Regions from separate parts of the Homo sapiens genome. Here all the other regions are linked to region 2. The links come from fine-mapping of genetic effects on gene expression. A gene starts in region 2. Each other region holds a variant in brackets. All regions are shown on one strand. Distances are from middle to middle. Region 1 overlaps FLJ32255 (a long non-coding RNA gene). Region 2 holds the start of ANXA2R-AS1 (ANXA2R antisense RNA 1). Region 3 overlaps LOC100506639 (a long non-coding RNA gene).

What was found. PIP is the estimated chance that this variant, and not a neighbour inherited with it, causes the effect. A credible set is the group of variants that fine-mapping cannot tell apart.
Region 1: its variant is the best candidate, but not a certain one, in a credible set for the expression of ANXA2R-AS1 in prefrontal cortex (CommonMind, PIP 0.87).
Region 3: its variant is the best candidate, but not a certain one, in a credible set for the expression of ANXA2R-AS1 in pancreas (GTEx, PIP 0.86).

Annotation. Positions count from the first base shown.
Region 1 is chr5:42,987,229-42,991,514 of GRCh38, reverse strand. FLJ32255 (a long non-coding RNA gene) reads left to right here. Exons shown (of 2, transcript NR_104643.1): 1 at 1-676. Among named protein-coding and RNA genes, the nearest start is that of FLJ32255, 4.0 kb to the left of the region's middle. The variant T/GTT (reference allele first, on the strand shown) is at 2,305.
Region 2 is chr5:43,040,623-43,044,622 of GRCh38, reverse strand. It overlaps ANXA2R-AS1 (ANXA2R antisense RNA 1), which reads right to left and starts at 2,489. Exons shown (of 2, transcript NR_015447.1): 1 at 1,056-2,489; 2 at 1-180. All of the region lies in intron 2 of ANXA2R-OT1 (ANXA2R overlapping transcript 1), which reads left to right. It also overlaps a transcript of ANXA2R not described here. RefSeq lists enhancers at 1-306, 1,026-1,075, 883-1,418, 1,446-1,645, 1,726-1,935 and 3 more.
Region 3 is chr5:43,069,327-43,073,680 of GRCh38, reverse strand. All of the region lies in intron 2 of LOC100506639 (a long non-coding RNA gene), which reads right to left. Among named protein-coding and RNA genes, the nearest start is that of ANXA2R-OT1, 4.1 kb to the right of the region's middle. The variant C/T (reference allele first, on the strand shown) is at 1,808.

The sequences.
Region 1 (4,286 bases), 53 kb after region 2:
CTGGAAACTCTAGGTCCGAGATCTCGGTGAAGAATGAAAGGCACAGCGCCGCTCAACCCAGGCTTCAGGCCTGCCCCGCTGGTCCCGTCCCTTCCCTGTGGGATGGAACTCTGTGGGAATCGCTCCTTATTCTGATGGTTCACTCATTCAGATGTCCTTGATATTTGGGGATATTTCTAAAACAGCTGGGGAGAAAAATGGACTGCGAGGCTCCGGTGTTGGACGTGAAATTGGCAGTGAGACATCCGCCTCTAAGCCCAGGGAAAAGCTTAAATTGTGGTTCTCTGTCTCTAGCACCGTGATCTTTGAAATGCGTTATTGATTTTCTTCTTTCTTCTGGGAAATGCAATGCAGGTGAACTTGTAAGTGTTGAATCCTCCCTCTCCTCACTGTTCAATCAGACTGAGGCCTACTTCCTTTCTGATAAGAAATATGGAACTGCCATTGCTCAGTAGGAAAATGTCCTTTCTACAAGCATTCATATTTCAATAAAAATCTGCACTTTGTGAGTTGAGCCCCCTCAAAGAGACCTACAGACCCTGCCATGAGCATCTCCATCCACACTCATCATTTCCCATTTTCACCACTTCTGCTCCTGTGCAAACCAGTACTATCCTTTTCTGGGGGATCCTAGGCAGAAGCGATGGCAGGACAAAGGCAGAGAAGGCACTGCCAGGTAAGGAAATCTATTTTGCCCTTGCAATTCTGTCTCCCAAGGGATTTGCCTCAATATCTCCCTCCCACCATACCCCTTCTTCAGCTAGCCAAAACCTTCCCTGCTATTTGAGGCTCCTCCAATTGCCTCCTGGTCCTGTGGTTGCAAGAATAAAGGAAAAACTACACTGTTCTCACCCACATAGTTACAGACACTATGAAATAGAAGAGCAGTCTGGAGTCATTGCAAAGCAAAATACCTACCATCAGTTCTCTCTTCCTATTTCTTTTTTTTTTCTTTTGAGACAGAGTCTTGCTCTGTCACCAGGCTCGAGTGCAGTGGCGCGATCTCGGCTCAGTGCAACCTCTGCCTCCCGTGTTCAAGGATTCTCCTGCCTCAGCCTCCTGAGTAGCTGGGGCTACAGGAGCGTGCCACAACGCCCAGCTGATTTTTGTATTTTTAGTAGAGACGGGGTTTCACCATGTTGACCAGGATGGTCCCGATCTCTTTACCTCGTGATCTGCTCGCCTTGGCCTCCCAAAGTGCTGGGATTACAGGTGTGAGCCACCGTGCCCGGCCCTCTGTTCCCATTTCTACTCCAGCTTCCCATCTTAGTAAAAAAAATCTGTGAGCAACACCCTGTAGCGGGAAAAGGTAACCTGTCTTGATGGGAGTCCATAGGAGGCTGCAGGCTGCTTCCCTACAGAGACTGATATCAAGGTAGCTGCAGAATTTAGATTCTAATCCTAGTGTGATTGGAGGTGGGGTAGATTCCAGGGAGGTCAGAAAGTGATCAAATACAAAATTGTGCTCCTTTGGAGGAGGTCATAGGAACTTTGAATTATGACAATGGCTAGTAATTGGGTAGAATTGGAGCAGGCTGGTGATGGCAGTTTTGTGTGGGTGGTAGGACCTAGGAATCAAACTTGAGGGCAAATTGTGGAGCACATATGACAAACGATGTAGAGCCTTTCCTATTTCCCTTTCCAGTGTGTTATCCAAAACAATAAATAATAAAGAATTAAGAAAGACTAATATTTTTATCAATCTCATTAAGAAAAATTGCATCAAATCAAGATAACTATAATGATAAATATTGTTAGAATATTATTAACCAAATGAAAGTGACACAAAACAAAAACGGGGTGGATGGTGGGAGAGATCAAATAAAAGCAGTCTCCAACACTCAGGCAATTTGCACAGGTGAATCTTCTGGCCAGTTGTTATGTTGCAGGAAGCTGTGCAACTAATGAATGAGGAGGCAGGAATCCATATTAATACTTTCCTGATACAGAGAAATTCTTGGATTTAACAATCTGCTTCTTTGTCAGATACTGACTTTTGATTATAGGCTCAGAAAAGATGATAACAGTTATAATCACTTAGTCTAGTAGAGTAGGTAAAAGAAAGACTGTGTAGGAGGCTAGACAGAAAGCAAAAGGTAAAAGTGCCCCGGGGTAAGTCATCTAGAGTTGAAAGTGAAGAACTGTGCTTGGTACCAATGGAGGACTCCACCAGGTCAGGTTAACCTACAAAAAATGAACCATTGGCTGTTGATCTCTGGGACTGAAGATTCACCCTATCCCATTCCTGTCTAGCCTCAGCTTTACATTCACTGTGTAGCTCAAAGGTTTTTGTTTGTTTTTTTT[T/GTT]TTTTTTTTGTAAAACACTCTCCACAAATGTTTGATAGATTATAAAACCCTGTCCTAAGACTTTGTCATCCACAGACAATTGTCTTATTTTCAGTCCTCTTCAAAAGGTCGTTTATAATTAGCTATTGGATTTTGATAGGTGTTTTTGAATGCAGGTTTCTAATTACTCTGGAGATTGTGACATTAGAATAAAGAAAAATGTGACATGAGTCTGCTTGGGAACATTTTTTTTTTTTTAAAGTGGAATAGAGGAGTAAACTTTTAGGACTCTCATGGAGAGCTGAAGTATTCGTGAATATCAAACAGGAGTTAATTGCATGGACCGAACAAATAGAAGACTGAAATGATATTGTTGACTTTTTTGCTAAAAAATTGCTGATCCTTAAAAAATTGCTGATCCTTTTTTATGTTTTCCTGAGTCAAGGAAACTTTACTTTTGAGCTATTGACAGCTTTTAACAATTCAGTAAAGTATACTCCAGTGAACAAAATTTGGAGCATATTTCTTTCTCTTTACCTGATTTCTCCAGAATTTGGAAACTATTTGTGAATATTCTTAACTTATGTCAATGTAGTTATTTGCATAAGTGCAATAAGAATGTTTTCTTTTGCAACAGAACACCATTGGAGAAACTGGTTATTTTACCAAGGCTTTGACTGAAATGGTGTGCTTTTCTTTAAGGAGTCAAACTTGAGTTACAGAGCCAATAAAAGCTCCTTGGGAAAACAGGCCCCAAACCTTGTCTACACAGACCCTATACAGGGTTTCTGATTTGTGGTAAGTAAAGAATGTCACTTTTTGACAAGCCCAGGAGCCCCAAGTGATCTTGGGACCTCTAGAGGAGGGGAATTTACCCAACTCATATGTATTCGATGGTACAAAGCCATGGCCGGGCTCGGCTTTTAAAAAGTCTTATCTGAGACTTTTTCTATGGAATAGAGTTCCATCAAAGTCATTTAAAAAGGCTTGTGTGAAAAATAATTGTTCTTGCGGCACTTTATACAAATAATCAGACCAAGTATAATAAAGCGAATAGGTCCTACCATGATTTCTCTTTAGTAAAAATGGGAAACTGGAGAGAGAAAAATTATGTTTCAACAACTATAGTATACATGCTGTTAGATTCTAGTCTTGCCTAATGTTATTTAATTTTTATTATTTTCTACAGTTTGGACTGAATTCCAAAATTTTTTTCTGGCTAAAAGTCTCCAAAATGATGTTTTCAATTATTTTCTTCTTTCTTTTCCTTTCCCTTACCCATTTTTTCCTAATTTTAAATCACTGAAAACTAAACTGTGCTTTCTTAAAGCCCTGCAAAATGAAGCTAGACAACTTAAACTTCAGAAGTAAATAAGAACAACCTATGTACATACATAAACCACTCTCATACCTGCCTGCTGATGTATGGACTTCAAAGTATTATGGCCCATATTGATTTTCCAGAATTATCTTTTTTGGTTTGTTTGTCGCTGTTTTTCTCCTTTCCTACCCATATTTTCTCTTCATAGGATGTGAGACTTCACAACCTGCTAAAAATGAGCCCTCCTAATAATGTGTGTCCTACCCAACTGGGAATAAACCATCGTAGCCATGAGAGATCAGATGGCTCTTCTCCTCCAAATATCATGTTAGAGGAGACTCACTTTCTTGTAAAATGCTTTATCTGAAAGAATTTAAAAAGAAACGGGAGGAAATGTGAAAGGAAAATAAATCCAGGGACCCCCAAATCACTAAGCCAAAAGGAAAAGTTAAGCTGGGAGCTTTAGGGCAAACCTGCCTTCCATTCTATTCCTAAAGAATATAGCTGCTAAGTTGAAAAAGTTACATACCGGCCAGGCAAAGTGGCTCACGCCTATAATCCCAGCACTTTGGGAGGCTGATGTGGGCGGATCACCTGAGGTCGGGAGTTTGAGACCAGCCTGACCAACATAGAGAAACCCCGTCTCTACCAAAAATACAAAATTAGCCGGGTGTGATGGCAC
Region 2 (4,000 bases):
GAGAGGTACCGGGACAGGGGCGGGAGACCTGAAGCTGCGATCAGAAAACGCTGTGCCTTTTACGCTCCTAAGGAACCTTAGACCGAGAGTTTCAAGTTTCAAAGGCAAGCAGTTGTTGGCCCCTCCTGTAGGATCCTGTGGGCTCTGGACCGGGAAGAGAGCCTGGCAGCGAGGGGTGACCTGGAAAAGCCCAGTCACAGAGGGTGGATGGCTGTTTCCTGCGTAGGAAGCTGTTGGCGACCAGAATGGTTTATACTTTGTTCCTGGGACCAACAGGATCTGCTTGGTTCTCGGCGCATAAGCCCACTACTCTCCCCCTGCGTAATGCACTGGGTGGAATGCAAGAACAATACAGACTTCCTGCGGGCCTCGGTGGCCCACGCCTGTGATCCCAGCACTTTGGGAGGCCCAGGCGGGCGAATCGCTTGAGCTCAGGAGTTCGAGACCAGCCTGGGCAACATAGCGAGACCGCCGTCACTAATATATATATATTTATATATATATATTTCATATATAATATATATTTTATATATAATATATATTTTATATATAATATATATTTTATATATAATATATATTTTATATTTTATATACTATATAAAATATATTATATATAATATATTATATATAATATATTATATATCTTATATATTATATATTATATATAATATATTTTATATATTATATACTATATTTTATATATTTTATATATTATATATAATATATTATATATTATATATTATATATAATATATTATATATATTATATATAATATATAATATATAATATATTATATATATTATATATAATATATTTTATATATAATATATATATTATATATTATATATATATTATATAATATATATATTATATAATATATATATTATATATAATATATAAATAAATATATATTTATATATTTTATATAATATATAAAAATATATATTTATATTTATATATTTATTTATATTATATATAAATATAAAATATATATTTTAATATATATATTTATATATATAAATATATATAAATTAGACGGGGGTGGTAGCACTCACCTGTGGTCTCGGCTACTCTAGAGGCTGAAGCGGGAGGATCGCTGGATCCCAGGAAGTCGAGGCTGCACTGAGCCAAGATGACACCACTGCACCAGCCTAGGCGACAGAGGAAAAAAGAAAAGAAAAAGACATCAGACTTCCCTAAGCCCGTGGGGGACAGAGTGGGTAGAGCCAGTAGCACTTTGGTGGCACCGAGCGCGCAGTTGGTCGGTCGCTGCACCGTTCCTTTCCCAGCGCCGGCTGTTTCTCACTGGCAACGCCACGCCTTTGTCAGCGTTATCGGACGCTCTCTGGCGGCAACCTTCTCACGGCCAAAAATTATCTTTTGCAACTGCACAGACATTTGCTACGGGCAGCTGATCGCTGGGTCCCAGCGCCGCTGGTTTCACAATTTCGCGGGTGCCCCCCACCATCCCCAGCCCGCAGCATAATCGGTGAAGGGAGCCTGCGGTTTCTCCGCCGCGCCTTCGCCCGTTGCGTCCTGCGAAGCCAGTGGAATCGGTGGTCACAAGGTTGGTTTCACCAAGTCGGGCGTTTCTTGGCACTGGCACCGCTCTGCGCTTTTGCTGGCCCAGGCCGGTCTCAGCACCGTTAGGTGCTCTCTAAAGGCGACTGTCTGTCGTGGTTAGGAAAGCTGCTATGGGACGACAGTTTTTTAGAAGTTTCTAGTCTAGCCCAGCTGGCGGTTTCTGGATCGCAGAACCACTGATTGCGCGGAGCTGGATGTACTTCTGTGGCCGCGCATGTTTCTCTGTGGTATCCCTACGGCTGTCGTCGAAATCGCGGTGTTTCTCTGGCCCCACCGCCACGTGGGCAACTTCTTCAGTGGCTGCGGGGTTCTCTCCACTGAGTTGCTGGTTTTGATCCACGCTTTCTCCCAGAGAGCAGACGAGACACTTTTCTGTTTGTGTCAACTGCTAGTCGTGCTGTGCACAGTTTCCTCGTCTCGGTGCGGGGCTTTCTCCATCCGAGGCCCTCTAGTGCCGGCTTCGCGGTCGCAGCACCCGGCGTTTCCGTTGGCTCTTTCGCCAGCGGCGCGAAGCCGGCGGTTTTGCTGTCACAGCACTTGCTGCACGGAGTTTCTCGGTAGCCGAACTTCTCTTTTTTTCTCAGAGTCGACGGTTTCTTGGTGACGGCACCGCTGGTTGCGCCAAAACAAATGTTGTCCTTGACAACCCCGCCGGCTGCATTCCCTTTCAGGCTCCTGGCACCGCCATTTCGGCGAGCCGTGGTCTCTTGTTCACAGCTCTGTGCCTCCATTTCTCGGTGGCGGCAGCCCTCAGGCCGCGGATCTGAGAGATTTAAAGTCGCAGCTGCCCCCGTTGCGCCGAGTCTGGCGTTGCCGGATGGGTGCTGCAGGGCTGGGCGGGGGGAGCCCGACGCTCCTTGGAGCCGGTGACAGGGGAGCTGCAGGGGCACAGTCTCTTCCCAGCGCCGCCGCACGGGTTCCGGCTCGGCCTCCAGAACGCAGTCCTGTGGCGGCGCCGCCGGCGTCTCTGTCGCAGGACCCCACGGTTTCGCGCGTCGTTGGCTTCTTAGTCCTAGCAAGTTTCGATTTCGCGGTGCCTGGGATTTCCACCCTCTGTCCAAGTAGGGGAATAGCCAAAATGTATTTTCTCAGCCCAAGCAAGTCCTGACTTAAGACAAACACCGGTCTAGCCCTGGCTGCGATATCTAGGCCGTAGGAACTCACCCGTTTCCCCATGCGAAGGCGAAGTTACCCTGTGACTCGTTGGTCAGCAGCTCCGGGTTTCCAGTGGCCTCGGATTTCTAATCATAACAACCATGGGGTCAGCCTAGCCTCAAGTTTCTTAGTCCTAGCAAGTTCCGGTTTCCTACTGGTAAGACTTGCTTTAGCTGCGCAGGAAATGTTTAACTCCTGTGGAAATCTGGGTACCAGCGAATGCTTTTTTTTTTTTTTTAAAGGTTTAGCGATGACCAGTTTAGCAGTGTTGGGAGCTCTTATACCAAGTTTGGTTTCGCAATATCGAGTCCTGTCTTAGCTATGCTTGTGTGTTTTTAAAACTCCCGTGGAAGTCAGGAAATGCCGGCGATCGCGATGTCTCAGTTTTACCAAGCTCCCTTTGACAATAGCAAGTCCTGCCCATCGAGACTTTTTCCTCTTGTAGACCAAATCGGGATGTACCAGCTACTACGATTTTTTAGACGTAGCTAAACACGTTTAACCGTGGATATTTTTGTTTTTTTTCTCGTAGGAAATTATGACAGGAGCAACCTGCAGGGGTTTAGATCTGACAGAAATATTCTAATGGTAGGCATTGCATCGCTTAGCCATATTTGTAATTTCTTCTTTGTAGGGTTGGTTCTCTGTAACTTTTGCTTACCTTAAAATTATTTTTGTGTCTTGCTCTGAGGACAATGTTACCGATGTGTTTTTCATTTTTACTTGCATTTCAGACTTTCATTATTTTAAATTATGTATTTTTTTTTTCTTCTAATTTTGAGCGTCTCAGATTCGTGCTTCTTGACTTTCATTCTCTCAGGAGCCGGGGAGCCGAGCTCGGTCTTAGCCTCGCTGGTATCAGGTTCCGGGTTCTGTCTGGAGGCTCCGCTTCCTATGCAGAGCTGGCGGTTTTGTATCAGCACGTTTGCCAGTGGCGCCCACTGGGCGTTTTCTCAGTTGCTGCACCCAACGTGACATTTCCCGTTCGCGGGGTCCTTAGGTTCTCAGTGCTGTCACTTTTTCGCTCCTACAACCGCTAGTATCTCCTAGGAACTTCCTGAACCCCGTTTTGCCGTGCAGAACGGTGATTGCACCGAGCCGCTGTTCGCACTAGTAATTGTGTGGTACCATTAGCCGGCGCTTTTTCTGTCACAACCCATTAAAACGGGTTAAAACATATTAAACCTATCAAACACATTGAACGGATTAAAACACATTAAATGCCGCAACACATTTTTCTGGTACAACACATTGAAACAGA
Region 3 (4,354 bases), 29 kb before region 2:
TCCTTGCAGGACTCAAAAAGGGTGCCCATAAAGCGATAAACTATGAAAAACTTTCAGAAATCCCCCAAGATCCTGACGAAAAAACAGCCCTTTTTCTCTCTTGTTTAACTGAAGTCATGAGAAAATATACCAACCTAGACCCAACCAGCCCAGAAGGAACCACTATTTTAAACCTTTAGTTCATGTCCCAATCCACCCCGATATTCGGCGTAAGCTACAGAAGCTTGATGATGGCTCTCAAAACCCACAACGAGACCTTCTTAATTTAGCCTTCAAAGTCTTTAACAATCGTGATGAGGAAAATAAAAGGCAAAAACATGCAGAGTTTCAAATGCTTGACTCCGCCATCCGGGGCCCTGCAGGCCCACAGGGCCGCAGCTCCACACAGAAGCCTCCTAGCAATCCACCTCCACCTGGCGCATGTTTCAAGTATGGCAATGAAGGCCACTGGTCTAGACAATGCCCAAACCCAGGTAAGCCCATCAGGCCATGCCCCCTCTGCAGAGGACCCCACTGGAAGTTGGACTGTGAGCGGCCCCCACAAGGACCACTCCCATCCCTTCCTGAGCTGGCCAAAACCTCCTACTCGGATCTCACTGGCCTTGCCACTGAAGACTGATGGGGCCCTGGAATGGACGCCCCGGCAACTACCATTGCTTCATCTAAGACAAGGGTAACCCTGATGGTGGCAGGTAGGCCAGTATTTTTTCTTATTTAATACCGGGCAACCTACTCTGCTTTACCTAATTTTTCAGGACCCACCCAGTCCTCCCAAGTCTCTGTTGTGGGAATTGACGGGCAAGTCTCCAAACCCCGAGCCACCCCTCCACTCTTCTGCTCCCTGCATACCTTTTCCTTCACTCACTCTTTTTTAGTCCTGCCCTCATGCCCAACTCCACTCCTAGGCAGACATCCTTTCAAAAGTCCACACTATTCTCCACTTCCACGTTCCCCATAGTACCCAACACATCAACCCATCCCCTAGCCCCATGCTTACCAAACTATCCTTAAAAAATCCTGTCTTAAGAATTCTCAGCCTGGCCGGGTGCCATGGCTCATGCCTGTAATCCCAGCACTTTGGGAGGCCGAGGCGGGAGGATCACCTGAGGTCGGGAGTTTGAGACCAGCCCGACCAACATGGAGAAACTCCATCTTTACTAAAAATACAAAATTAGCTGGGCGTGGCGGTGCATGCCTGTAATCCAAGCTACTCGGGAGGCTGAGGCAGGAGAATCGCTTGAACCTGGGAGGCGGAGGTTGTGGTGAGCCAAGATGGTGCCATTGCACTATATAGCCTGGGCAGCAGTACGAGTGAAACTCCGTCTCAAAAAAAAAAAAAAAAAAAAAAAAAAAGAATTCTCAGGGAGGTGGATTTGGGAATGAATTCCTGTCCTTCCACTTGGCCAGCCCTGCAATTATTGAAGTCTTTCTTTGCTGCAAAAAAGCTGCTGTTCTCAGTGCATTGGCCTTTGTGGACAATGGGCAAGATGAAACCATTGGGTGATTACACCCACCCTACCCAAAAAAAGACATTCTCTAAAAACTGTCATATCTTTTATCTATTCTTCTAAAGGACCATTTATCTTCTAAAATATCATTTGTGGCTGGTGCAGTGGCTCATGCCAGTAATGCCAGCACCTTGGGAGGCTGAGGAGGATGGATCACGAGTTCAGGAGATCGAGACCATCCTGGCTAACACAGTGAAACCCTGTCTCTATTGAAAATACAAAAAATTAGCTGGGTGTGGTTGCGGGCACCTGTAGTCCCAGCTACTCGGGAGGCTGAGGCAGGAGAATGGCATGAACCC[C/T]GGAGGCAGAGCTTGCAGTGAGCCAAGATCACGCCACTGCATTCCAGCCTGGGCGACAGAGAGAGACTCTGTCTCAAAAAAAAAAATCATTCATATTTCCATAAGTGCCCCTCTGCCCCTCCCCATCTCCTTAATGACATAGGATGTTTCTCAGCAACTTTGCCAGCCAGAGACCTCTGGCTGGCGATGCCCTACCTAGGCCTTGCTGGAGCCCAGGCTAACCACAGGAGATGCCCCATCTACTCGGTTTGCTGGGCTGTGCCTGGCATGTCCTCTGGTGCAGATCCTGTGGCCACCATGACTGTGCACTCAGCCCCTGGCAGGAGGGGTGTGTGAGCTAGTGAGTGTGGGGTTCCACTGGTAGCTCCAAGCACCAGCACAGGAGCAGGCTCTGTGTGGGACTTGTGGCTGGACCAGGCATGTTGCAAGTGACTCCTATGGTGGACTCTGGCATCCAGATGAGGGGAATGTGATGGCACCCAAACAGGGATGCCCGTGACCCCAAAGCCCCAGAGTGGGTGTTACAACATGCTAATAGCTCTTTCAGTCCCGCCCTCTGCAGCCCGAAAGATGTCAGCGTGTTAACAGCTCTGTCAGTCCTGTGGTCTTGCTCTGGCCTACAGCTCCAGGGCTGGTTTGGCCCAACAGCTGCTTCCCGTGTTACAGCCTTCTTTGTACCCGTGTTAGGTGGATCCCGAGTTGTTGTCCTGCATCCAAGAAGAATGAGGTTATGCTGAAAATCAAAAAGTGAGGAGGGCAGAGAGGAGTTTTATTGAGCCACAAAACAGTTCTCAGTGGAGAGGGGATTCGAGGATGGTTTCCCACCAGAAGTTGGGTGGTCTCTCTCCCAATGTGGCAGGGTCTGGGGCTTTTATAGGCTCAGAATGGGGGAGTGCATGCTGATTGGTTTGTGCATATGCAAAAAAGGCTAAAACAAAAGCACCACTCAAAGGTGGGCACAACTGTGTAAAAAAACAATTAGGGAAGGGCAGGTATATGTAAAATAGGTGAAGTGTGGGGATCAATCAGAGGAAAGTGCACTAAGTGAAGTGTGTGGATCAATCAGAGGGAAGTGTGCTAAAGGGGAAGAGAGATTCTTAATCCGGTCCATGGATTTACTGGAGACTTGTAGCTTGGCTTTCATGCTTTAAACTGTCTTTGGTTTGAAGGTGGGGTTTCACCAGGGACCCACCCTTGTCTCCCTAGGATTTGTCTGCCTCCTGCCACTATCATTAAGATGGTATCTAAAGTCTCAAATTTCACCACACTTTTGGATATTCAGTTCTTTCTATGATGCCTCCATGCACATTAGATTAAACATTAAAAAACTTGGCTGGGCGCGGTGGCTAATGCCTGTAATCCCAGCACTTTGGGAGGTGAAACCCTGTCTCTGCTAAAAAATAAAAAAAATTAGCTGGACATGGTGGCGGGCGCCTGTAGTCTGAGCTACTTGGGAGGCTGAGGCAGGAGAATGGTGTGAACCCGGGAGGTGGGAGCTTGCAGTGAGCCACTGCACTCCAGCCTGGGAGACAGAGTGACACTCTGTCTCAAAACAAAAAAATAAAAAAATAAAAAATAAAAAACTTATATTCCTTTTCTCGTGTTAATCTGCCTGTTGTCAGATGAATTCACAGCACTCTCTGCCCAGCCACTGAATCTAAGAAGGTGGAGAAAAAGTATCTCCTCATCTATGCTGGAAAGCATGAATGTGGATTCTTGCTTTTCTAATCTATGACTTGCATAGCTTCTGTGCAACATCCTGACTTCCCAGACAATTCACCTGTGCATACCACTTCTGTGTAAAGACTATCCTTGTTTTTTTTTTTTTTTTTTGAGACAGGGTCTTGCTCTATCGCTCAGGCTGGAGTGCAATGGCGCGATCTTGGCTCACTGCAAACAAGCTCTGCCTCCTGGGTTCACGCCATTCTCCTGCCTCAGACTCCCGAGTAGCTGGGACTATAGGCACCCGCCACCACGCCTGGCTAATTTTTTGTATTTTTAGTAGAGACGGGGTTTCACCGTGTTAGCCAGGATTTGTATTTTTAGTAGAGATGGGGTTTCACCGTGTTAGCCAGGATGGTCTCAATCTCCTGACCTCATGATCCGCCCACCTTGGCCTCCCAAAGTGCTGGGATTACAGGTGTAAGCCACTGCGCCTGACCAGTCTTTTTTTTTTTTTGAATGTTTAAAAATGTTTCCATTTTGTGCCACCTTCCTTTAGTCAACAATAACCCAAGTTTTGTTATTATTAGTTTATTGGTTTAGCCAGATTTATCTTGATGAAATTTTACAAAAATATACTTTGCGGCTGGGCACTGTGACTCATGCCTGTAATTCCAGCACTTTGAGAGGCCGAAGCAGGTGGATCACTTGAGGTCAGGACTTTGAGACCAGCCTGGCCAACAGGGTGAAACCCTGTCTTTACTAAAAATACAAAAATTAGCCAGGTGTGATGGTATGCACCTGTAATCCTGGCTGCTTGGGAGCTGAGGCAGGAGAATAACTTGAACCTGGGAGGTGGATGTTGCAGTGAGCCGAGATCGTACC